Linked DNA regions of Homo sapiens: region 1 is linked to region 2. Evidence: fine-mapped expression QTL. A gene starts in region 2. The other region holds a variant in brackets. All regions are shown on one strand. Distances are from middle to middle.

Region 1 (12,719 bases), 150 kb before region 2:
TGTTAAAGCAACAAAGGCAGCCTCTACTTTATAAAGCACGATGGCAAAGGCTAGGGCAGATGAGGGATGGAGATTATGAGGAATGTTACTCTTTGATCCTTGTGTATTCACAGAATTAACTATCCAGGCACCCAATATAGCCAAAGTCAAATTTCCTACTTTTAAGTGAACTAATTCGACCATAAAGCACTTACTAAGTTGCAAGATACAGAGCAATGGAGAGGGTGGGGAGGAGATCCAGGAGACCCAACTGCACTACACACTTGAAAAAGAGGGAAGGTAAGAAATTATGCCTTGTATTTAAATTCTGTGTCATTTCTTTCTAAATAAGTAAATATATATTATACAAATGGATATGAAATAAATTATTTCAGGAAATCTAGAATTTAGGAACAGGTCACATCCATCTCTCTGACCCCAGCCCAGCACAATTCTAGAAATTCTAGGTTCTAATAAATGGCTGCTGGACTACGATATTTCCCTTAAAATATTTTAAAAATTATATATAATATAAGCAGTCAGCAGTGTATTTTTTTACTTGAGAAGACTTCTAGCTTCTGCTCTCTGGGAAATGGCAAGAGTCACAGGTAAGGGAACTTCTAGCAGTTTCTATGATTTTTACAGCCAGGTTAGACACCGTGCCTTCAAATTGCTTTACAGTCAAGAAACCACAGCCTTCAGTGTTCAAATGAGAAAGGATAAGAAAATATGCCCACATGTCTACTTTAGAAATGTAAGCCACTTAAAGGCCATTGAAGAGCAGTGGGTTTGGGTCCTGCAAATGGCATGTATATTCATAAGTCAAAGAGGCCCAAAGAGAAGTGAACCCCTAAGGGGAGGTGAAATGGCTCCCTCCCTCTTTTTTTTTTTTTGACAGGGTATGCATGTTAGCACTTAAGGTCATGGGGAAAGAGCATGCAACAATGGATTTGCACTTCATTCTTCCCCATTATGACCTTGTTGAAGAATGGATGCGAGAGGCTGAGCAGCCTCACCATGGAATACATTGCAGAAAGACTTCTGAGGAAGACAAAGTAAATTAACTTTTGTAATCATAGTTGATCCACTAAAATTTGTCATTCATCTCCCTTAATAGCTTGGGCGATAATGCAGCAATTAATCCTCTCTAACTTCAACAAGTGTCAAAACAAAAACAAAAGGCATTAACCATTTTGTCTTAAGTAAAACGAGGGAACCAATAGTGAATGAGCTGTCTCACATATAACTGACTTGGTTTCAAAATTGTTTTGTGTTCTCCAGTAAATTCTACTTAAAATTTAGTCATTTCTTTCTGTTTACATTTTGTTTGGCTACAAAAGATACTTTATAATTCAGCAAACATTATCTTTTTCCTTCATTATTTACTTTGTTTCATATAATTTAAGTTCTAACATTAATTTAATTTTTTAAAAAAGCCTCACTCTGTAAGTATAGTTTCCTTCATCCTCCCTGCTCCTTTCTTTAGATTCTAAACTGATTTTCTCTTGAAGAGCAGGAAAAGGTTCAACTGAAAAAGACAGCTAGCAGTGGTGCTCTTTCCCAACCCCCCTTCTCTCCACTTGGGTCACAAAGTTGTTCTATACATTGTCCTATATGCTAAGTAGGAGATGCCTTTTTAATTCAGTCTAGCTCAGATCACTGTAAGATTTTCTGCTTGTGTATAGCAACTTAGGTATTCTAGGTATTCAAGCCGTTAATTTACTCACTCAATTAGTTGTCTTTTCATACAAATAGTTTCCAAGAAGCCCTTCAGAAACACTAAAGGAATTTTGAAGTGCCATAAGTGGACCAGGGAGGGTGATGTAAAGATTATTTTTGGCAGTGCTCCTCCTTGAACCCATTTCAGCTTCCCTCCTCCTCCCTCTTTTGGGGAAAACAAGCAACCTGCTCAGGCTGCCCAGTCTTAGTCACACCTTCCCTACTGATGTTAACATTTTTAATGGTGGCAGGGTAATTGTGGAGGTGGTGGTGGTTTTTAAACAAAGCAATACTTTGCTAGAGGTTGTGTCTGTGGCACCAGTGGCTCACACCAGGCCTTGCCAGGACCCCTTCCAGTATGTCCAACACCTTCTCTGCCTGACCCAGTGAGACAGTCACAAGGCTTCAGAAGGAACTAGGGCTTACAAGTAGCTCCACTGTTCATTCGAACCTTTCCCCATGTTACTACCTGCTACTCTTGTACCGTCTGTCTTCCCCATCCTTTATCCATCCTTTATCTTATTCCCACTAATTTCTGCATTCTTCTGAACCCCTCCTTCTTGCCTCATTACTTTCCAGACATCTTTTTTTTTTTTTCTTTTTTTTTTTTTTTTACCTGAGATGGAGTCTTGCTCTGTCCCACAGGCTGGAGGGCAGTGTTGCGATCTCGGCTCACTGCAAGCTCTGCCTCCCGGGTTCACGCCATTCTCCCGCCTCAGCCTCCCGAGTAGCTGGGACTACAGGCGCATGCCGCCACGCTCGGCTAATTTTTTGTATTTTTAATAGAGATGGGGTTTCACCGTGTTAGCCAGGATGATCTCGATCTCCTGACCTCATGATCTGCCCGCCTTGGCCTCCCAAAGTGCTGGGATTACAGGTGTGAGCAATTGGGCCCGGCAAGAGAAAGTCACAGCTTTTGAAAGTAGAGAATAGACTGCAATTTCACACGGTACAAAGATACCCATGTGAAAATATGTATTGATTGAAGGAGGGAAGGACATAATGCCTGCATCAACTTAATTCCCCTGGGGCTATCCTCCTCTGAGGTTGCTCTGCCACTTAGGACCTTTCAGTAACTTGCAGCCAACTGAAACATTTGAAGAATATTATCTGCTGGTCACAGTGACAGCAAAGAAAAAATTAATTATATAAGAAGCTTTAAGGACCAGACAACTATTCTGGCCAACAAGCCAGAAGATAATCTTTCAATATGGAAAACTTGGACCCTATATGGTTATCGAATAAGTAGAAAATAACTTTGATACTTAGCAATTGGCTTTCCAAACAAAACAATCATGAAAAAGTGATGGAGCTCCTGAATTTTTCACAGAACTGAATTTTTCTCAGAAAATAAATACAGCAAATGAAAATGAAACACTTTAGCTGCCATTAAGAAAGGATTTTCCAAAAACAAACAAAATGAAAAGATAAATAAAAGGTACTCTTCCAAACCCATTTAAGACATAGCCATAAGCTTTTTCACTAGAACCATATTTTTTAAATGTATAGGTCTGTAGACTGCTAGAACAGAAAAAGCCAATGGAGAACACAAAGCGAAGCAACAGTTCCAGCTCACAGAGCTCAGAATGAAAAGAGAGTCGGAATCCAAGCTTCCTCACTTCCAGCCCACTTTTCATCCTACTCTACACATTACGTTCCTGCTCAACATGACTTTGCTTAATGTTCAAATGCTGGAAACTATGACAACAAAGGCCTCCATCATAAAGCTTCAAAGCTAGGAGATGAAAATAGGTTACAAACACACACGTACACACACGTATGTATGACCCACATTTAAGTGTAATCACATCTTAGTATAACCCAAGGGGAGAGGCACGTGTGGCAAAATCATTGGATTGGGAGCCAGGCTTTCCAATGAACTCATATGTGAAACTTACTCAAATTATTTCATCTCTTAGTGCCTTCCTGGATCTCTAAGACCCCTTCCTGATCTAATATTTTATGGTACTCTAAGATAACTCTTACCTACAGTGGTGAAGTGTGCTTTTCAAAAATGTGGCTTTTAGAGGCACAAGGAAAGTTTCTCAGGACAAAAACCCAGGAGTCGTCTTGATTTCTCTCTTATACCCACACAGCAATTATCTAAGTCTTCCTTGCAGGCATATTTGGCATAGAATTGCCTAGCATTTCCATTGCCCCCTTTCTCTTCTCAAAGCCAGAAGCCTTCCGATGGCCTACACGGCCTATATGGTGTGGCTCCCCACTTCCTTCCTTACTTCATCTACTACCTCTCCTTCCTTCCTGGCCCTCTGCCATGCTGATCCTGCTGAGCCTCACACCTGACAGCCAAGTATCCACCTCAGGGCCTATGCATTTGCTGTTCTCATTTATTCACCTCCTTCAGGCCTCTGCTCAAAGATCTCTTCGTCAGAGTGACCTTCTTCAACCACTCCACAGAAAGAGTACCCACCCAAACCTGTAGTCTCTATTCCTTCTCATTTTTTTCCATAGCACTTATCACTACCATTCAAATTATTTTTAATTGTCATTTCTCTCTTTCCCCACGAGAATGTAAGCTCCATGAAAACAAGTACAGGTTGACCACTCTAGGAAGAGAAAGTTTATTAGAGAATTCCAGGAAGCTGGCAAATGCCCTTCCGCAGCTTTTCAGGTGGGATTCCAACCATCCCACTTCCTTCCAGGCAAAGACATTTCTTCCTGATCTCTGCAGAAATAATTCCACTTCCTCTTATTTCCAGAACTGAACAATATTTGTCCCTTCCATATACTAGGCCCTTGATATTTTCAGAAAAGGGTACTTAAAATGAAACAAGCTGGGGAAGGCTTTTGGAAATGAGTGAGCAAACATGTCAGCAGAGTGATCTTCATCAATGCTGTGTTCAAGTCTTTTGACAAGCTGGATTACCCAGGCCATTTGTGATCACTGGAGTTACTTGGTTTAAACTTTTCAGGCTGGGAGTGTGGCAATGACTGAGGCAAGCCACAAGTGCCAAGTGGTTAATTACATTTCCATTACTAATTGTAGTGTAGCATTGTGTTCTCACAGTGAAGTAACATCTAGCGTTTGAGAACTTTCCCAGTTTCAGTTCTCCCAGGGTCACTGAGCTCCTTCCTGGGTAAGAGGACTAACTCTGTTATCTCCATTCTTTCACAATTTTAGGAAAGCTGATTTTAGGCTTTGTGAAAGAGTTGTCCTCTTTACATTTCTGCCTCTATTAACCATGTATCACCTGGGCTTTCTTCAGCCTTTATTTCCTCAAACTGCCTAAACTAAACCTAGAAGGCAGGAAATGCTGGCTTTCTGGGTGATTCCTTCAGCAAATCTCCCCACATGCTCCCATCAAGCTTGAGATCCTCTGTCAGTTTTCTCCCTTCTTCTGAGTAGAACTACTAAACTTAATTAGGACACTGGACAGGAGTTTCTGGCAGAGCAGCAGTATAATAAAACATATCATAAGAAAGTTAACAGGGCCCAGCTCTGAGCAAAGTTACCATCCTGAAAGGCCTAATCATCCAAAGACGGAAAGGTCTTTCTCATGATGTAAAGAGCTGACTCCAAACTGACTCCAAACCCAGAGCCTCATAAAATCATGGAGCCAGGTAGCAAATCTTTCATCCTACAGGTATTTAGAAGGGAACAAGTGTAGCTCTGTATCATCAGAGACTCCTCATATAGGAAGTGGGGAATGATCTTCATTCCCGTAGATTATGAAATGTTGCATTTTTTTCCATTAATTTAAACAATATTATTTGATGGCATCCCTTGGCCCCCACCAGGCTGCCTCACCGACAGATGTCCACCAGCTGATCCAGCTCGGGGCAGCTGCACTCATACATGTCCCGGCAGCTCATGTGGCTCTGGTTCATCAACTCTCCCAGCAGCTGGACCATGTTTTCAGGTGCTTCTTCACATATCTTCTTAAACTGGAGCACTCGCGCAGCCTCGCTGTACACATGCTTTGCCCGCTGATAGAGTTTGAAGATGAGCACTGAGGAAGGAAGAGGATGGGGAAGGAGGTTAGGAATAGTTACTGGACAACCCAGTATAAAGAAAAATACACTTTTAAAGACTTTCATTTCTGTTTTCATTATCAGTATCTTAAACTTCAATAGGTCTCTCTTGCTGAAAGGATTCTTTCAATTGAAATGTGTCTATCGGCAAGTCAGGTTTACTTTTTTCTTGATACTGAATAAAATCTTGTAACTATATTTCCTTCACTTCACTCAACACACATGTGCATATACTTGTGTGCAATCTAATCCATCCCAAATGAAGACAGACCTAACATGTAATGAGTACACCCTACATGCCAAACACTTTAAAATACTACTTTGTGTAGGCCAGGCGCGGTAGCTCACATCCGTAATCCCAGCACTTTGGGAGGCCGAGGCAGGTGGATCATCTGAGGTCAGGAGTTCAAGACCAGCCTGACCAACATGGTGAAAACCCATCTCTACTAAAAGTACAAAAATTACCTGGGCATGATGATGGTGGGTGCATGTAATCCCAGCTATTTGAGAGACTGAAGTGGGAGAATTGCTTGAACCTGGGAGGCAGAGGTTGCAGTGAGCTGAGATCACGCCGTTGCACTCCAGCCTGGGCGATAGAGCACGACTCCGTCTCAAAAAAAAAAAAAAGAAAGAAAGAAAAGTACTACCTCATAAAGTTCTCATCACAGCACTGAGGGATGTGCAGTATGATCCCTGTTAACAGAAAAGAGAAGGAGGCTCAATAGAGTGAAGTGACATGCTTAAGGACACACATCCAGAATGTGGCGGAAGCCAAACAGATCAGGGATGCCTGGCCCTAGAGCCATGTTCTTTCCACTCTGCCCCAACAGAAAGGACCACTGGAAATTCTTATGGTGGCAATTTTTTAAATAAAAATATTATATGTCCCAGATAAACACAATTATTTATATGGGATATATAATGTTTATATATGTACCTATATATATATATTGCAGCATTATTTATCATAGAAGAAAATAAGAAACAAATATCTAATAACAGAGGACTTTTAAAAATTATGCTATATTCATTTTTGAAATATTACTGCTATCAAAACTCAGATTCTAAGGCAATTTGATATATAGGAAATTATTCATTATTAAGTGAAAAAACAACCTACAAAACTATATGTACAACTGATACTAATTTTGCATACACATATTTATGTATATTTTAATTTAAAAAACTGATAGGAAAGCACGAAAATGTTAATATTAGTTATCTCTGTGGTCCATTATGGGTGATTTTATTTTCCTTTTGACACATATATGTATTTTCCAGATTACCCACAGTGACACTGTAATTTCAGCTACAGAAACATGGTATATTGCAATGGCTATGTCTATAATGCTTACACATTCCTGTGAATAACAACTGAGACTTCCTTACCATTTTCACCCATGCTGAACAGTTGCTGAGCTGGTGTGGTGGGTCTGGGAAAATTTTGGAAAATTTATGAAAATTCCCAGGCCTAGGGGAAAGAGACAGGGCTGAAAATCAAAAAGTCTATAATTTTTTTTTT[TA/A]ATTTTACTTTAAATTCTGGGATACATGTGCAGAATGTGCAGGTTTGTTACATAGATATACCATGCCATGGTGGTTTGCTGCACCCATCAACCCGTCATCTCTATTAGGTATTTCTCCTAATGCTATCCCTCCCCTAGCTCCCAACCCACTGACAGGCCCCAGTATGTGTTGTTCCCCTTTCCCTGTGTCCATGTGTCCATTGTTCAACTCCCACTTATGAGTGAGAACATGTGGTGTTTGGTTTTCTGCTCCTGTGTTAGTTTGCTGAGAATGATAGTTTCCAGCTTCATCCATGTCCCTGTAAAGGACACGAACTCATCCTTTTTTATGGCTGCATATTATTCCATGGTGTATATGTGCCACATTTTCTTTATCCAATCTATCATTGATGGGCATTTGGGTTGGTTCCAAGTCTTTGCTATTGTGAATAGTGCTGCAATAAACATATGTGTGCATGTGTCTTTATAGTAGAATGATTTATAGTCCTTTGGGTATATACCCAGTAATGGGATTGCTGGGTCAAATGGTCTTTCTAGTTCAAGATCCTTGAGGAATCGCCACACTGTCTTCCACAATGGTTGAACTAATTTACATTCCCAACAACAGTGTAAAAGCATTCCTATTTCTCCACATCCTCTCCAGCATCTATTGCTTCCTGACTTTTTAATAACCGCCTTTCTAACTGGTGTGAGATGGTATCTCATTGTGGTTTTGATTTGCATTTCTCTAATGACCAGTGATGATGCACTTTTTTTCACGTTTTTTGGCCGCATAAATGTCTTCTTCTGAGAAGTGTCTGTTCATATCAAAAAGTCTGTAATTTCTTAACAGATCTGTGACAACTAGCTGTACACAAATTGCTACCTGTATAATGCTCCCTTTATTTCCTCACCTCTAAAATGAGGTTGAGAATCACTTCTCAGGATACTCCCAGCCCTAACATTTTATAATTCTATGAAGGGCTTCTTCCAAAAGTATCTATCCTTCAACATTCCCCCCATATTGTTATACTTTGTAAAGAAGATGCTGTTACTGGTAGCTTTTGTTTACACCCCAGTCCTACTCTCTGCCCTTTTCCACCCTACTATCAGCCCCAAAGGCTGACCTGTATAGACTACACCAGTGAGTCCCTTGCCATCTAGATTTGAGAGCAGGAAAAGATCAGCAATAGATGGGAGGGAAGAGAGTGATGTCAGAGGATTTATTCCCCGGCTCCTCCCTTGCAGAGCCATTTAGAGCTGGCAGTGTCTTTCCACTGAAGGACACTGAACATCCTTCAAAATCTCCTTTTCTACATGACTTTCTCTCCTCCTGGGTCTGCCCCTAGGTTCCTCTCCCCTAAACTATGATTACTTTTTCTGAAGCACTTTTACATTTCTACTAATGAGCCAATAATTTTTTTTTTGCCCTTGATTTTTCTTGTTTATTTATTTATTTATTTGTATTATACTTTGAGCTCTAGGGTACATGTGCACAACGTGCAGGTTTGTTACATATGTATACATGTGCCATGTTGGTGTGCTGTACCCATTAACTCGTCATTTACATTAGGTATATCTCCTAATGCTATCCCTCCCCCCTACCCCCACCCCACTACAGGCCCCCATGTGTGATGTTCCCCTCCCTGTGTCCATGTGTTCTCATTGTTCAATTCCCAGCTACGAGTGAGAACATGTGGTGTTTGAACCAATAAATCTTATTAAAGTTTCAGGTTTCATTTTTCCCCTCCACAGCACTGTCCTTATAACTCTTACTTTCGTAGATAACCACTATATCATTATCACACCTAACAAAATTACCAGTGGTTCCTTAATATTGCCTGATATTCAGTCCATATTTAAATTTTCCCAATTGTCCACCAGTTTACATTTCAACTGGTTTACACCAAGATCCAAACAAATTCCACACATTATATTCAGTTGTTATGTCTAATAAGTCTCTTTTAGTCAATCAAGAATTTAGTAGTTTAGTGATTTTTGATACTCTGGATTTTCAATATCCCATCCAAGCACATTTTAGGGCCATATCCTGTAATAAAACTCAATATAGTCCATCAGGGAGAGTACACTTTGGTTTTCCTTTAGGATTACATATTTCTTTAGGATTAAATATTTTATTTTAGGATTAAATATTTTAAAATAGAAACTATCCAGAGAGATGTTTTCTATTAAACCCAGGACTGGTGCTTTGATTTTGACAAAAAGCATTCACAGTACACCCTGCAGACTACCAGAACCTCACAATCCTGGCACCTTCCTGAATCTGTTCTCTTCTTGCAGAGGAAGTGTGTCACAGCAGGACTTCTGAATAGGAATGTCTAACGAGGACTCTTGCTGGGCATTCTGAAGGTGCATGAGAGATTGCCATGGCTTGCAATCTCTTGAACGGTAGTAACTCAGACAACAAGGGAAAGGGCAGAAAGGGCATCTGTTTTCAATTGTGATATAAAAATCTTGCCAAAAGCTACAACAGATTTGGAGACCACCCTTTGGGTGGGAAAGCAGTTCTGTGTTGGCTGAATGTCACAAATGCTCTCTGGATCCAGGGTTCTGGCTTGTTATGTGCTGGCAACTCATCAGGTCTCTGTTATACAGATACCAAAAAATCCAAGAAAATCTGAAGCTTTATCCATAACAACTTTCTTCCCTGTCCAGCTAACATTATAGCTGGATGTTCCAGCTGTCTATAAGCTCTTGTAATCCTTGGGAGCAATTATTACATTAAAGGATGAAAGAAGCTGTTTCTTACTATGTTCATTGCATGCATGATTACTTCCAAGGCAAATTCAATTTAAGAATATAACACTAGATGATATTTTCCTCCAATATTGTTAATGGCCTATCCTATTCAAGAAAAATCCAAAACTTCAAAGCGGGATATACGTCATAGTCTTCAGAACACTGATTTTCTCCAATGTGAATCTTAAATAATTACTGAATCTAGTCATGAAATCATGGCACAAATTCTGAAATCTAAATGTTCATGGCTATATATACTTAAACTGCAAAATAAATATTTCATTTTGTTGCTAATAATTTTGGCTTGTATAATAAATTATATTGGCTAAATTCCTTCTGCCCAGCCTCCGAGCTGTGCTTCCAGCACACCATGTGGCTCCTGTGACAGGCCCTTGGCAGTAGCTGTTTTGTTGTCCTGAAATGCTCTTCCCCAAGATCTTCACATGGCTGGTTCCTTCTTGTGGTTCAACACTCAGATGTCACAGCTTTGAAGAGACTCAACTCCAATCTGGAGTAGCCCACACACATACATATTTTCTCCATTCTATTTTATGCTCCCAACACCTATCACCATCCAATATTTTCCTGTGTGTTCATTTGTTCATTGGTTTGTGGTTGTCTCCCACCAATGGAAGCTCAGCTCCAAGAAAGCAAGGGCCTTGTCTAGTTTCTTCATAACTATCTCTAGCAGCTAAAATAGGATCTGGCACTTAGTAGGGGTTCAATAAATGTTTGTTGAATGCATAATTCAAATCCTTCTCCTTGTAACAAAACTGCACTGAAACTAGGCTAAATAAACAGTAGTGAGACAAGTACAATATGGAATATAAAGGAGACATACTATTTTAACAATTTATACTCACTAGCATCCTCACCAAAAAGTGGGGAAAGTTTGCTAAAATAAAGTTTGGAAACAATTAGTAAACTTCAGTGCCCAAAGTATACCCTAATATTCATTATCACAGATGACTGAGAATTGTTTATATTGTATTTTGCTTTACAGATGTGAGAGAAAAGAGATTTCTAAAACAAAATCTGTTTCAAATAAAAGAGAAAGAATATAAAAATGGATAATTGTAAACAGTTAAAATTAGTTTTTCTTTTAGGCAATCTTTGTAACAAAGAGTTGCCTATTAACGTTTTCCTTTAAAAGATGGTTACATAGTTTATGATCAGAACCCATCTCTAATCAAGGAATCTAAATCAGGGCACACATAATTGGTTATTTTATTGGATCTCTGGTGGGAAATGGTGAGGGAAAGCCTTTGACAGGTGAGGCACACTGAGCGCCACTTTAAGCTCTGAGGACAGCAGGTCAACAGTAGATAGAGGACATGTCTATTTCATCTCTGAAAGAGTCCCACTGATTTAAATTTAACCTATGCATGCAAGGGCTAGTGGCCTCTTCTTTATTACCTCATCTTCTGCTAAGAGCAATGCCAAAAGCACTGAGTCATCTGAAAGAGCTTCACTGATTTAATTTTAAGTTCTCCATGCAAGAGCTGGTGGCCTCTTCTTTATTACCTCATCTTCTACTAAGAGGGATGCCATAAGCACTGAGTATGATAGTCATCTAGCAAAAGTTAACCAACAGTTCTTATTGAGCACCTGCTATGCACCCAATACTGTGCTCCAAATGACAGGAAAGCCACATGAAGTAGAACCTCTGCATTAAGGGAACTTATAACTTAGTTACACAGATAAGACAAACTATGACACTACTAGACAGTGAGCAATTGCAGCAGACATCTGAGTGCTGGAAATGCTGAAGGTGCACCAAGAAGACAGGGCTTGCTGGGGAAGGACCAGTAGTGGGAGATGTCACAGGAGAGGGGCCTGAGCCACACAGTGTCCCTTCTGTGAAGAGAGGATGGCCAAAGGCCCAAGGTGGGAACAGGCAGAGTGTGTTCATGGGCCTGAAGAGAGCAAGCTGACCAGAATCTGGCTCTCTAGAAAGCTATCCTCACATCTGAGGCTTTAGCATCCTCAGCTACATCCACTACACAAAGATTACAAACAACCCATGTGCCATAGCCAGCCACGGTGATGCCTTCTTGACTCAAATGTCTTTATATTGGAAGATTTACCTAAGAATCTGGATTTCTACTTACTTTTGGAAAACTGGAAGGTCTGACAGTGCTGGATCTGCATTACTGTCTAGCAACTGTTGGCTGGAGCTAAGGAGTACCTACCCCTTTGAGTCAGGGTACACACACTTTATTCCACACAGTTCTCACCATTCCCAACTATGTGACACTTAGCCTGCCTCACTAGTTTATATGCCAGCCTGGTCCTTGCAGGTATGTGCTTGTGGTCCTTGTTCTATAAAACTTTCTATAATAGGACTTCTCAGCAGAAGAGTGGGCAAATATCTTCCCTGAGTGGGTCATCATGCCATAATGAGCCACTGTTACTGTTGCTATCAAATATCACCTCCCATAGGTGCACTGATAAACAATGTATTGAATTATAATCTGTCTTCCTGTAACTTCTACTCTTTGGTCTTGGTTCTGTTCCCCAGACATATGTAAACACAAGGTAACCCTTCAGATATCTGAAGACAGCTCTCATGCACTGTGCCTTTTACACATTGTTGAGGGTCCACTATGTACCTGCTTAGGGACCAATAATGAATAAGTGTACTAATCAGGGTTCTCCAGTGAGACACAAACAACAGGATATATAGGTATACAAAAGAGGGAGAATTGGCTGATATAATCACAAGGAGAAGTCTCCTTGATAGGCTGTCTCTAAGCTGGGGAGGGA
Region 2 (12,719 bases):
GAAGATTGCAACCCAGGAACATAGATTCAAGTTAACATGAATATACCCTCTGATTAGCAGTAGTTACTAGTGGTTTTTAAAGGAAAAAAATGGGGTGGTTCCTAACTTGTTTACCAAGAATTTACATTAAAATAGCATAACCTATTGATTGGCTGTACTTTGTATCACAGATTACAGGAACATCAAGATAACAGGGGAAGCAGGAACAGGGGAAGTCAGGAACAAAAGGTCTTTAAATGATTGCCCCCTGGCACATGGGTGCAAGGAGGGCGAGGGATGTGACTAAAGTGCCATATTCATGTCTCTCTGGGCCTGATAAATCTTTGCATATCTCACATTGTAGCAGGACAAGCCACAGACAAAACCCCTCAGACACCAAGTTAAAGAAGGAAGGGGTTTATTCAGCCGGGAGCATCAGCAAGACTCCTGTCTCAAGAGCCGAGCTCCCCGAGTGAGCAATTCCTGTCCCTTTTAAGGGATCACAACTCTAAGGGGGTCCACATGAGAGGGTCATGATCGATTGAGCAAGCAGGGGGTACTTGACTGGGGGATGCATACACTGGTAATTAGAAGGGAACAGAACAGGACAGGGATCTTCACAGTGCTTTTTTATGCAAGTAACTGATAAGGTCAGGGGTTGATCTTTAACTACCAGGCCCAGGGTGTGGCACTGGGCTGTCTGCTTGTGGATTTCATTTCTGCCTTTTAGTTTTTACTTCTTTTTTTGGAGGCAGAAATTGGGCATAAGACAATATGAGAGGTGGTCGCCTCCCTTAACATACCTCAGATGGCTCAGAGCTATTTTTCTTTTCTCACCTACTAGAAAAGGGCATGTCCTTAATTTAATAAAGGATGTTTACCAGAAACAGCAAACATCATATTTGATGGCAAAATATTAGAAGCATTCCCATTTGTGATCTGAGAAACTTAAGTAGATGTCCCTTTATCAGGTAAGGGGGACTCTAAAGTTAAGGTAACAAAAGTTACAGGTCGAGGTGTAACAACTTCCTAAATTCTCATGGCTACAAGTAAAACCACTCTCTTGCTAAACCCCCTAGCAATAGCAGCTATTGGACACCTCCTAACTCTGACTTATGATCCAGGCCACTACAACTCTGATTGGACAGAGGACCAGCCTTACAAACATTCTTTTCTGATAAACAACTGCAGACCTTAAGCTAGTTTCAGCCAGCCTATAAAGGCTGTGCACTAACTGTCTTTGTGTCCTATAGCTCACCTTGTTATGTGAGCCAAATTCCACCTCATTTTAATGCTAAAACCTGCCACGAAGGGAACATGGGATGTATGTTACATATATGTTTACCCACTGCGCATGTGCTTGGCTCCCCTCATAAATATGTATAGCTTTTCCCCAAAACCTACTGAATATGTATGACTCTATTGTATAAGACAGACTCTGTGGGGCCTAAAACCCAAACTTCCTCTTCCCTACTCGAAGTTAGAACACCTTCAGTCCACACTGCAGACTCTCTCTTCTGGTCTACAAACTGATAGTGCCAATAAAGCTCTTCTTTCTACTATCTCACCATTCTGGTGGTCATTTGGATGACATATTAAAATAAGGGTGAAGACAAAGATGCTATCATCATTATTATTCAACATACTACAATGCATAAATTATAAAATGTCTACATAAGATGTCATAAAGTTAAACTAGAAACTATATTTATAATATATATAGAATAAATGGTTTCTATTAAAAATACATACAAATACAAAAATACACACATATAAAAAGAGTTTCTAAAAATAACAAGAAATAGGCCAAGTGCTGTGGCTCATGCCTGTAATCCCAGCACTTTGGGAGACCAAGGCAGGCAGATCACGAGGTCAGGAGTTCGAAACCAGCCCGGCCAACATAGTGAAACCCTGTCTCTACTAAAAATACAAAAATTAGCCTGGCGTGGTGGTGAGCACCTGTAGTCCCAGCTACTTGGGAGGCTGAGGCAGGAAAACTGCTTGAACCCGGCAAGTGGTGGTTGTGGTGAGCCGAGTTCATGACACTGCACTCCAGCCTGGGCAACAGAGTGAGACTGTCTCTTAAAAACAAAACAAACAAACAAAAAAGCAAGAAATAGGCAATCCAATAACATCTTTTTTGCAGGGCCATTTGACAGGAGCTATCAACATTTTAAATGTTTATTACCTTTGGCTCTGCTTCCATTTTCATAAATGAGCTTTAAAAAATTCACAAGAATGCTCAGAGAATATATATACATATATGTACATATGTATATGTACACAAGGATGTTTGTTGCAGCATTGTTTACAAGAGAGAAAAATTAGAAATCTAAGTGTACTAAATGTTGAGTGGTTAAATAATGGTATTCATACTACAAAATACTCTCAGCCCTTAAAAACAGTGAAATAGTCCGGGGCACAGCGGCTCAGCCTGTAATCCCAGGGAGACCAAGGCGGGTGGATCACTTGAGGTCAGGAGTTCAAGACCAGCCTGGCCAATATGGTGAAATCCTGTCTCTACTAAAAATACAAAAATTAGCCAGACATGGTGGCACATTCCTGTGATCCCAACTACTTGGAAGGCTGAGACAAGGAGAATCTCTTGAACCCAAGAGCGGAGGCTGCAGTGAGCCAAGATAGTGCCACTGCACTCCAGCCAACAGAGCGAGACTCTGTCTCAAAAAATAAAATGAAATAAGTAAAAATAGTGAAATATATCTGTATGAACTGATATACCAGATATCTGAGAAAGATTAAGTGAAAAAAAGTAAGTAAAAAAAAACAAATATAATTATTGGACTTATGTGAATATATCATTTTTATAAAATATAGTAACAATGATATAAGGACACAATAATATTACAAGGATACAAACCAAATGAATAACTTCTAAGAAGAGAAGTAGAAATTGGCAGCCAAGGGTAGAAATCAGAGACAATCAGGAAAGAAACTGTGGGATTTTCAGGCTTTACTGAATATACTTTTAAATAATCCAAATTTTTAATATTAAAAATGTATTCAGTGTCACCCTGCTAGCTCAACTGGTAGAATAGAGACTCAAGAATGTGTTCATACAGCAGCATTATTCATAAGAGCCAAAAGATAGAAGCAACCCAAATGTCCATCAATTGTTGAATGTATAAACAAAATGTATATCCATAAGCTAGAATATTATTTAACCATAAAAAGGAATGATATACTGATACATGTTAAATGATGTACTGATACATGAACCTTCAGAACATTATGCCACATGGAAGAAGCCAGTCACCAAAAAAACACACATTTTATATGATTCCATTCATTTGAAATGCCCAAAGTGACTAAATCTATAAATACAGAAAACAGAGCAGTAGTTGTTTAAGGCTAGGTGAGGGGAAAGGGAATGGAGTTCTGGGGTGTGATAATCTAAGGGATGGCTGGGTTCTTTCTAAGAAAACGTTCTAAATTTGATTATGGTGATGGTTGCATAGCTCTATGAATACATTAAACCCATTTAATTGCAAACTTTAAATGAATTAGTTATATGATACGTGAATGTCAATAAAACTGCTACAAAAATAGCAATAATCCAACAAGTTTTAAAACTTAATCCAAAAGAGAAAGTAAAGATAAGAGATACAACTGCTAAGAATGCAAAGAAAGCCAGAACAGTGAAATTCAGAGTCTTACGGTACCGGTACCATGCAAGAGTGGGACACAGAAAGAAAATATTAGAACTTCAATTTCTATTTGATTTTTACATAAAAATAATAAAAATAAAATTAAGTTTTACTAAAATGTATGATATGGTTGACCAGTGCCTTTACTCAAAGGATCATGTGCCTTGTGAGGTTGAAGAGGCATCCTGGAAAAAGAATAAGAGTTCCACAAGAAAGCAGGCTGACCATTCATTCATTTTTTTTCCTTCTCAGCATATTGCAATACTTGACCGGTTAGGTGAATTTATAGATTATACTATTTAGATTTAATAAAATACATCCCTCCTAGAATGAGTAAGTGGCTGCAAAACATTCCTGCAAATAAAACATTGCTTGAAGCTAATAATTGCATTTTGTGCACAAATGAAAAACAAGAAAACGGCAGAGCTTATCTACTATGATCTCTTCTGTGGATAACACAGAATAAATATTAACAATAAATATTTGTTACATGAATAATATAAAAATCATGAAAAGCAAGAAGAACACTAAGGAAATTCAGTAAACAATTCTTCACTTTTAGTACATGTACCTATACTTGTTACCACCATCCTCCCCCAAACAGGGTAAATATAGATAGAAATGTTGATCTTTATTATTACAATCACATAAAATGGAAACACATTAGGAATTTACACATGGGTATGTTTTATGTAGAAGATTAAACTATAGACGTGGCACGGTGGCTCACGCCTGTAATCCCAGCAATTTGGGAGGCTGAGACGGGCGGATCACTTGAGGTCACAAGTTGGAGACCAGCCTGGCCAACATGGCGAAACTCCGTCTCTACCAAAAACACAAAAAAATAACGGGGCGTGGTGGCGGGCACTTGTAATCCCAGCTACTCTGGAGGCTAAGGCAGGAGAATGGATTGAACCTGGGAGGTGGAGGTTGCAGTGAGCGGAGACTGCGCCACTATACTCCAGCCTGGGCAACAGAACAAGACTCTGTCTCAAAAAAAAAAAATAAGACTAAACTACAAGAGATCAAGTTATTTTCATGTAACAAATTTCTCATTAATCTTATTGGAAGCATGCCTTTAACAGTGTGTCTTAATTAATTCAAATATATAAGGGCAACAGTGCTATACAAGAACCTCTAGAGTATATTAAAACATTCAAAGACATTGAGAAGTAGTCCAAAGCTGTGCTGGACTCTATAATAAGAAATCATGCTTCTTTCTGGTAACTAAAGACACACTGTTTGCTGGTTTAAGGATGAAAGAACATTTTCAAGTTGTAGTAAAGTATAATATCATCAACTGACACACGGTGGTAATAAACCACCAAGTAGGAAGAGCTTAAGGACTTGATGCCAGAGAAAAAAACTAACAGAAAAAAACTGAAAACAGCAAAGGCAGAGGGCCGGGCGCGATGGCTCACGTCTGTAATCCCAGCACTTTGGGAGGCCAGGGTGAGCGGATCACTTGAGCTCAGGAGCTCGAGACCAGCCTGACCAACATAGAGAAACCCCATCTCTGATGAAAATACAAAATTAGCCGGGTGTGGTGACGCCTGCCTGTAATCCCACCTACTCAGGAGGCTGAGACAGGAGAATCGCTTGAACCTGGGAGGCGGAGGTTGCGGTGAGCCAAGATGGCGCCACTGCACTCCAGCCTGGGCAACAAGAGCAAAACTCCGTCTCAAAAAAAAAAAAAAAAAGAAAAAGAAAAAGAAAAAAGAAAGGAAGGAAGAAAGAAAAGAAAAGAAAAACAGCAAAAGCAGAGAGTCAGGAAAGCCCTTCGCTAATGTAGCAGGTGACAGACTTCATTTTATGAGACCTCAGCCCCATTAGTCAGAACGAAGTATTTCTACAAAGTACCTGTAACTGAAAAGATCCTCCCCGAGACATCACTAAACTATTAGTTACTGTGTAGCTAGGGACTGCCAGCAAATTAATTCCCTAAGTGACAGTTCAGAGATTCTCGTGTTTTTGTTTTGTTTTGTTTTAAAGAGGATGCAGACACCAAGAAGGTTTTTGTGTTTGTTTTCAATTAATATTTAGAAAGAAGACTTTTAAAAAGCAGTATCAACTGGCATGCGAGACAAAGAGAGGAGTTCAGTGTGGATATGGGCATTTCTGCTGAAGCCCAGTAGAAAGAGTACACTAATTACAACAAGAAAAGGAAAAGAAGAATCTGCATGGATGAAGAAAAAAACATACAACCCTTCGTAGTAGTCAAGGTAGAATGTGTTTGCGGCGTGATCTTTTTTGCAAGCCCAGCCACGTGTCCTTATAGAATCCCAAGGGTTCCACTTGCTCCCCGGGACCAAAAGCAGCGCCCCAAGGGAGGAGCCAAGTGCTGTGGACCCGATCTACACGTAGCCAACCCAGCAGATCCCAAAGCCCGGCGTCTCCTCTCCCCCACCTAGGATGTTCTGCCACCTGGACCCGACGCGTAGCAGGGCTCTCTGTAGCCATATTTCGCTAGATCCTTCTTTCTCCTGTAGTTTCAAGTGTCTAAGCAAAGCTCCCAGAGCAATCACGAGACTTCTGTGACAGGAGCCGTTTTCTTCCGGGAGATAAACAGCTCCCGCCCTGCGGAAATCCTGCAGCTTCGCTGAGGTGGCTGCTTCCAATCGGCCCCTCCTCTGGCTCCTCCTCCCTGGACTCAGCCAGGGTTCCCTCCAAGCAGCAGTCAGGTACAGCCTCCGTCCTGCTCTTAGCTCCCAGGGAGGGACTAGGGCCTCGCAGGAGCCCCTGCGCAGAGCACGTGCGAAGCTGACTAGTGAGGTTTTCTTTTTGCGCCCTGTGGATGTCAGAGAACAGTGTCATAACCTGGCGCCCTACATACACCTAGTTTCTGATCTGTCTCGGGCTGCGTTTTTTTGTTTGTTTGTTTGTTTTTTAGTTATGGTTTTGGTCTTTATTGTTCAGCAGCTACTCCCCAAACAACACTAAAATGTTTAGCTATTGCTTCTTTGCGGATTACTTCCAAATCAAGCAACATAAAATTGATGTATCACTTGATTTAAATAGATTTGCATTTATTTACAGGTTAGAGGCATTGGTGGGCCTTCCTAGAACACAGTAGTGAAAAGACGGAAACACATGCCTTTTAATGTGCAAGACCCCTTAGCATCCAGTTAAACCTCTTCATTTTTCACTTATCTAGAGAAATCCTAGATGCCCTATCAAAAGTACACTATCCCTAGTACATCACTAACTTTTCCTTCCTTCATAGTTCTCCTATTTGCTTATGTATTTATTGTGTCTCTCACCACCTCCATCATCACTACCACTAGAAAGCAACTGGGGGCAGGCAGATTGGTTTTTAATGAATAGGTAAGATAAACTGAATGAACGACGAAAGGTGAAATGATGTGCCTGAGGTCACAGTGATCATTGGGAACAAAACTGGAATTAAAATTCAGATCTATTAACTCTCAATCTAGTGCACTTTGCACCTCAGAAATATTGAGATTAAACCCAAGCAAAGACAGCTAGCAATAAACCCATTCCAAAGTTTCCTGATTAAGGAAGTTTGAGCCAACATGCCCAACACACTAGGGGTAGTAGCATAACTCAGAGAGATTCGATAAGTTGTATACATCAGTAAGTTACTGCTCCAGAATTTCTATATGTATATGCATACTTTGTCTCCATGTTTCCTTCCCCCTTCTGTATACATGTATACAGGAGGAAGGGGGAAGGAAACATGGAGACAAAGTGTGAATGGACAATAAAGCATAGCCAAAGAGTGGCAGCCCCTTGGCACCCCGTTGGGTTATTACTGTAAATGATACATCAAAGAAACAAAGTTACTCTGGTCTCAGGGCAGCTTTCTCACTATTATTTCAGTCCCTCTTTATCATTTTCAAATGAATGAATTATATCTTCTTGTTTCTGGGCCCCAATAAATCCCAGTTTGATGTTCATTTTGGTTTAATTTTGAGTAACAGGAGTCATCACTGTCACTTGTAAATAGTTTTAATAGGGAGATAACCTAAATTTTAAAAAAAAATGTAAAATGTTTAGGGACATCAGTAAATACAGAAAAGAACAGAATCTTTTTTTTTTTTTTTAGATGGAGTTTCGCTCTTTGTTGCCCAGGCTGGAGTGCAATGGCATGATCTCTGTTCACTACAACCTCCACCTCCCAGGTTCAAACGATTCTCCCGTCTCAGCCTCCCAAGTAGCTGGGAATACAGGCAGCCGCCACCACACCAGCTAATTTTTGTATTTTTAGTAAAGACGGGGTTTCACCATGCTGGGCAGGCTGGTCTCGAGCTCCTGACCTCAGGTGATCAGCCCACCTCGGCCTTCCAAAATTCTGGGATTAAAGGTGTGAGCCACCGTGCCCAGCCCAGAATCATTTTTTATTCAGATGTTTCTAATATATTCTTTTGCATTAGTTGAAAAATAACAAATTTTAAAGTTTTGAATTTTTTTAACAGTCCAAAATAAACTCATTTTATACAGGGTTAAAAAAAAATGACTGTAGAAACTGTTTCGAAAAAGAATACTTCCTACTGAATATGTACTTGATGACCGAACATTAACTTTGCTAAATGAAACCAGATGGCAAATCATTAGTTTGGACCTTGGATACATTGCTATTGCAGTCTCAACAAAACCGATGCAGACTAGAAAGCACCTTACAGAGCAATTAGTAAAGCATCCTTTTTTGAAATGATTGGCACAAAGTAAAACAGGATTAACAGAGCTAGAACTAAAACCTAGGTCTCTAGACTCCTAGCCTAGAGGCCATACTACTTCTGAATATGTGACTTTTGTTGAGACCCCAGTAAACTGTGCTTAAAAATAAATTATTGAAATGATTAGAATCCTTGTCCCAAAATAAAATGTGTACATTATAATTTTCATAAAGGATTACTCTTAAAATAACCTGTCCAAACTACTAGAGAACCCCAAATGGACACCAAAAACAAAACATTACTTTCTTATACTACCTTCCTTATACTAGGCATCTTGCTAAGTAAGCACTTTGCGTATATTATTGTCTCTTTAAACCTTTCCAACAATCCTTATGGGATAGAAAAATATTATTTCCTTTTCAATTTCAAGAAGATATTCCTTTAGTTCTTATTAGACATATCTAATAGTGAAAACATTTAAACATTTGGCTGGGCACAGTGGCTCATGCCTATAATCCCAGCACTTTGGGAGGCCAAGGTGGGCAGATCACCTGAGGTCAGGAGTTCGAGAACGGCCTGGCCAACATGGTGAAACCCCATCTCTACTAAAACTACAAAAATATAGCCAGGTGTGGTGGCGGGCGCCTGTAATCCCAGCAGCTTGGGAGGCTGAGGCGGGAGAATCGCTTGAACCCAGGAGATGGAGATTGAGTAAGCCAAAATCACGCCACTGCACTCCAGCCTGGGCAACCAAGAGCGAAACTCCATCTCAAAAAAAAAGAAAAGAAAATATTTAAACATTTATATTTTACAGTATTTTTATTTTCACAAATCCTGAACCTCTGGTTCTTTGCTTTTTGCAAGTAGGCACTCTTACAATAGGTTTAGAATCTGAATTATAAACTAATAAATGGTATATTATGATGGAGTCTTAAACAGAAACCTAATTAATAAACTTGAAATTGTTTCTCCTCAAAGGATATTAGTCTCCATTCAGATAAAATATTATAGCAAACTAAACAAAAACAAAACAAACACTAAAATGAAAGAATACAAAAACTTGATCCAAAATATGAGTTAAAGCATGGGTGTTAGAGACTTACAGACCTGGCTAGTGCCTATTGATGTTTCTCAGCTTAGAAATCACTTCCTTCAGGAAGTTTTCCATGTTCTCTACCCAAAACTAAATGTCTAAGACCACAGAGGGATTGACCATTTATCTGAAATAATGTTATTTCTGTGGTTTAATCTGTTTGTGCAACCTCTGGAAAATATTTCCTATTTTGACTTACAATAAAAACTATTGTTCACAATTGGGAGAATCTACTTCAGTGACCTATTTTGGATATTTTCTCATTATAGTAAATAATATGTAATACTTGTTTATGTCTTCTTTATAATGATGTTACATTCCTTCTTTTTTGTTGTTGTTGTTGAGACCAAGTCTCGCTCTTGTTGCCCAGGCTGGAGTGCAATGGCGCGATCTCGGCTCACTGCAACCTCCGCCTTCCGGGTTCAAGTGATTCTCCTGCCTCAGCCTCCCGAGTAGCTGGGATTACAGGTGCCTGCCACTTAATTTTTGTATTTTTAGTAGAGATGGGGTTTCAACATGTTGGCCAGGCTGGTCTCAAACTCCTGAACTGAGGCCATCCACCTGCCTCGGCCTCCCAAAGTGCTGAGATTACAGGCGTGAGCTACTGCACCCGGCCCCTTATTCTTCTGTTCATAAAATAGATACTGCTCTCTAGTGTATATAATCATTAAATGGCAAAAGATAAACTCATGAATCAGAGAAATCTATATTTATGTAGTTATGGAGGAAATAAAAATTGTGCAAAAATGCTTTAACCGAACATAGATTGTTTTGCAGAGTGAAAAACAAAGCAAAACAAAACGAAGACTCTAAGCACCCTCTGCTTGCCCAGTCATACAAAGCATCACATCAGTACTCTAATTACTTGTTTTCTGTCTAGTCTAAGTTTTTCTACTCAAAGTGTGGTCCTCAGAACAGCAGCATCAGCGTCACTTGAAAGTTTTTAGAAATACATTATCTTGGGCCGGGCGCAGTGTAATTCCAGCACTTTGGGAGGCCGAGGCGGGCAGATCACAAGGTCGGGAGATCGAGACCATCCTGGCTAACACAGTGAAACCCCATCTCTACTAAAAATACAAAAAATTAGCTGGGCGTGGTGGTGGGCGCCTGTAGTCCCAGCTACTCGGGAGGCTAAGGCAGGAGAATGGCGTGAACCTGGGAGGCGGAGCTTGCAGTGAGCGGAGATGGCACCACTGCACTCCAGCCTGGGTGACAGAGCAAGACTCCGTCTCAATAAAAAAAAAAAAAAAAAGAAATACATTATCTTGGGCCCAGACCTACTGAATCAGAATCTACAATGCAAGTCAAACATGCCATTTTAAATTTTCTAGAAGCCACTTTCAAAACAATAAAAAGAAATGTTAAATTTAATAATATATTTTATCTAATACACCAAAATATCATTTTAAATATAATATTTTAAATTATTGACATTTTACTTTTTTAAATAAGTCTCCAAAATCCAGCATATCTCAATTACAGCATATCTCAATTATGATGAGAAACAAGTGGCTGCTATATTAGACAGCACAGAGCTAGATTATAAGCTCCCTGAAGGCAAAGACTGTTTTACTCTGATTTTATAGACTCTGGCTCAGTGTTGAGCAGGCACTCAAGGAATGTTTAATGAAGGAATAAATTAATGAAATCAGATTAGCGTGGTTCCACTACTTTGTGACCCTAGGCAAGTCTGAAATTCCTCTTCTAAAAAAGGGAGATAAAAATACCTACTTCATAGGGTTATTATGAAGATTTTAAAAACCATCCCAACATTCTCTCCAGTTATTCTCTATCACCTAAATCTGGTTTGCTGTCTTTAAGGCCATCTGAAATTACATTATTTATTGATTTTTATACTTATTACCTGTCACCTCCACTAAAATTCATATTCCATGTTTCATCCATTATTCTATCATTCATTCATTCATTTAACAAATGTTTCTCTGTGCTACTATGTTCTAAGCACTATTCTAGGCACTGGGGATACAACAATAAACATAAACAAAAAGCTCCTGCTATTATGGCAAATTAAAATTAGTTAAGTAAATAAATGAATATATTACAAAAATTGATGCAAACTCTGCATCTAGTATACATTCCATCATCAAAATGAAATCTGAGAAACAAATATTTAGACTCTGAAATTAGAAATTTGCATTTCAAGCTTACAGTGTACATTAGCCTGACCAAACTACAGATAAATTGCCCCAATTTAAAACTATATTTTGTTTTTTCCTTTTTATTTCTTTTTTTTTTTTTTTTTTTTTTTTTTGAGACGGAGTTTTGCTTTTGTCATCCAGGCTGAGTGCAATGGCATGATCTCGGCTCACTGCAACCTCCGCCTGCTGGGTTCAAGCGATTCTCCTGCCTCAGCCTCCGGAGCATCTGGGATTACAGGCATGCGCCACCACGCTCGGCTAATTTTTGTATGATTAGTAGAGATGGGGTTTTACCATGTTGGCCAGGCTGATCTTGAACTCCTGACCTCAGGTGATCCACCTGCCTTGGCCTCCCAAAGTGCTGCGATTACAGGTATGAGCCACCATGCCCAGCCTTCCTTTTTATTTCTTCACCTAGAAACTAAATATAGTACCAAGAATCTTCAAACTAGACAATTCTTTCCTCACCTTGTCATAACCATCCAATGTTGCCCACCTCAATGAGGAGCTGATTGTGGTTATTATCTTAAGCAATTTTTTTTTTTTTTGGAATACATTTGCTAATGCTCTCCAGTGACTGACATAACTGCATCTACTGGTTGTCAATTGGCTTCGGCTCAAAATAATACTTAGGCCAAAGTAGCATATTTTGGGGTGGCATATTCTGAACCCCTTCAATGCTTAATCATACTGTATTAGCATATTCCTCCTATGTCAACTATAGAGATGAAAGATATAATTGCAGTCTGGAGCATTCTGAAGGCTTAGTATAAGTAGTTGTTGATTCCCTTAACCCTGCCTCCATCTCTATAAATAGTCCCTTAATTAAATTTTCAGTTAACTTCCCTGAGTATGCCACGAGTTTTCTTTCCAGAACTTTACTAATACAAAAGGAGTCCTCTTTTTCTGCTCTTCTAACACACAGTGTTCAGTCTCCCCAAATTAATATAGTAAAAAAAAATTTTAAAGATGATTGGTCTGAAAGGATGCCAAATCATAAACCTGTTTGGTATGACTCAGCCAAGGCCTGTGAAGAGTCATGAATGCTAAAGTTTACTTAAACACATCACATTTTCATTGAGAATCTTCTATAAGCAAGGCATATGCTGCATTTCAGAGAATTCAGAAGTAAGAAAGACAGTTGTGTCCTCAAGGAGCTTTCTGTTTAATAATGAATAAATGGAAA

Direction of the effects. Alleles are on the strand shown, and positions count from the first base shown. SD is a standard deviation of normalised expression in the study named.
For the expression in monocytes of the gene that starts at base 6,180 in region 2, TA is the low allele of the variant in region 1 and A is the other (moderate effect, 0.47 SD a copy in BLUEPRINT).

What was found. PIP is the estimated chance that this variant, and not a neighbour inherited with it, causes the effect.
Region 1: its variant is fine-mapped to the expression of GALK2 in monocytes (BLUEPRINT, PIP 0.94).

The regions. Positions count from the first base shown.
Region 1 is chr15:49,312,554-49,325,272 of GRCh38, reverse strand. GALK2 (galactokinase 2) reads right to left here. Exons shown (of 10, transcript NM_002044.4): 9 at 5,468-5,669. Among named protein-coding and RNA genes, the nearest start is that of FGF7, 100 kb to the left of the region's middle. The variant TA/A (reference allele first, on the strand shown) is at 7,214.
Region 2 is chr15:49,163,708-49,176,426 of GRCh38, reverse strand. GALK2 (galactokinase 2) reads right to left here and starts at 6,180. Exons shown (of 10, transcript NM_002044.4): 1 at 6,052-6,180. The coding sequence starts at 6,104. MIR4716 (microRNA 4716) reads left to right here and starts at 7,274; the gene lies at 7,274-7,357. RefSeq lists enhancers at 5,993-6,232, 5,864-6,768.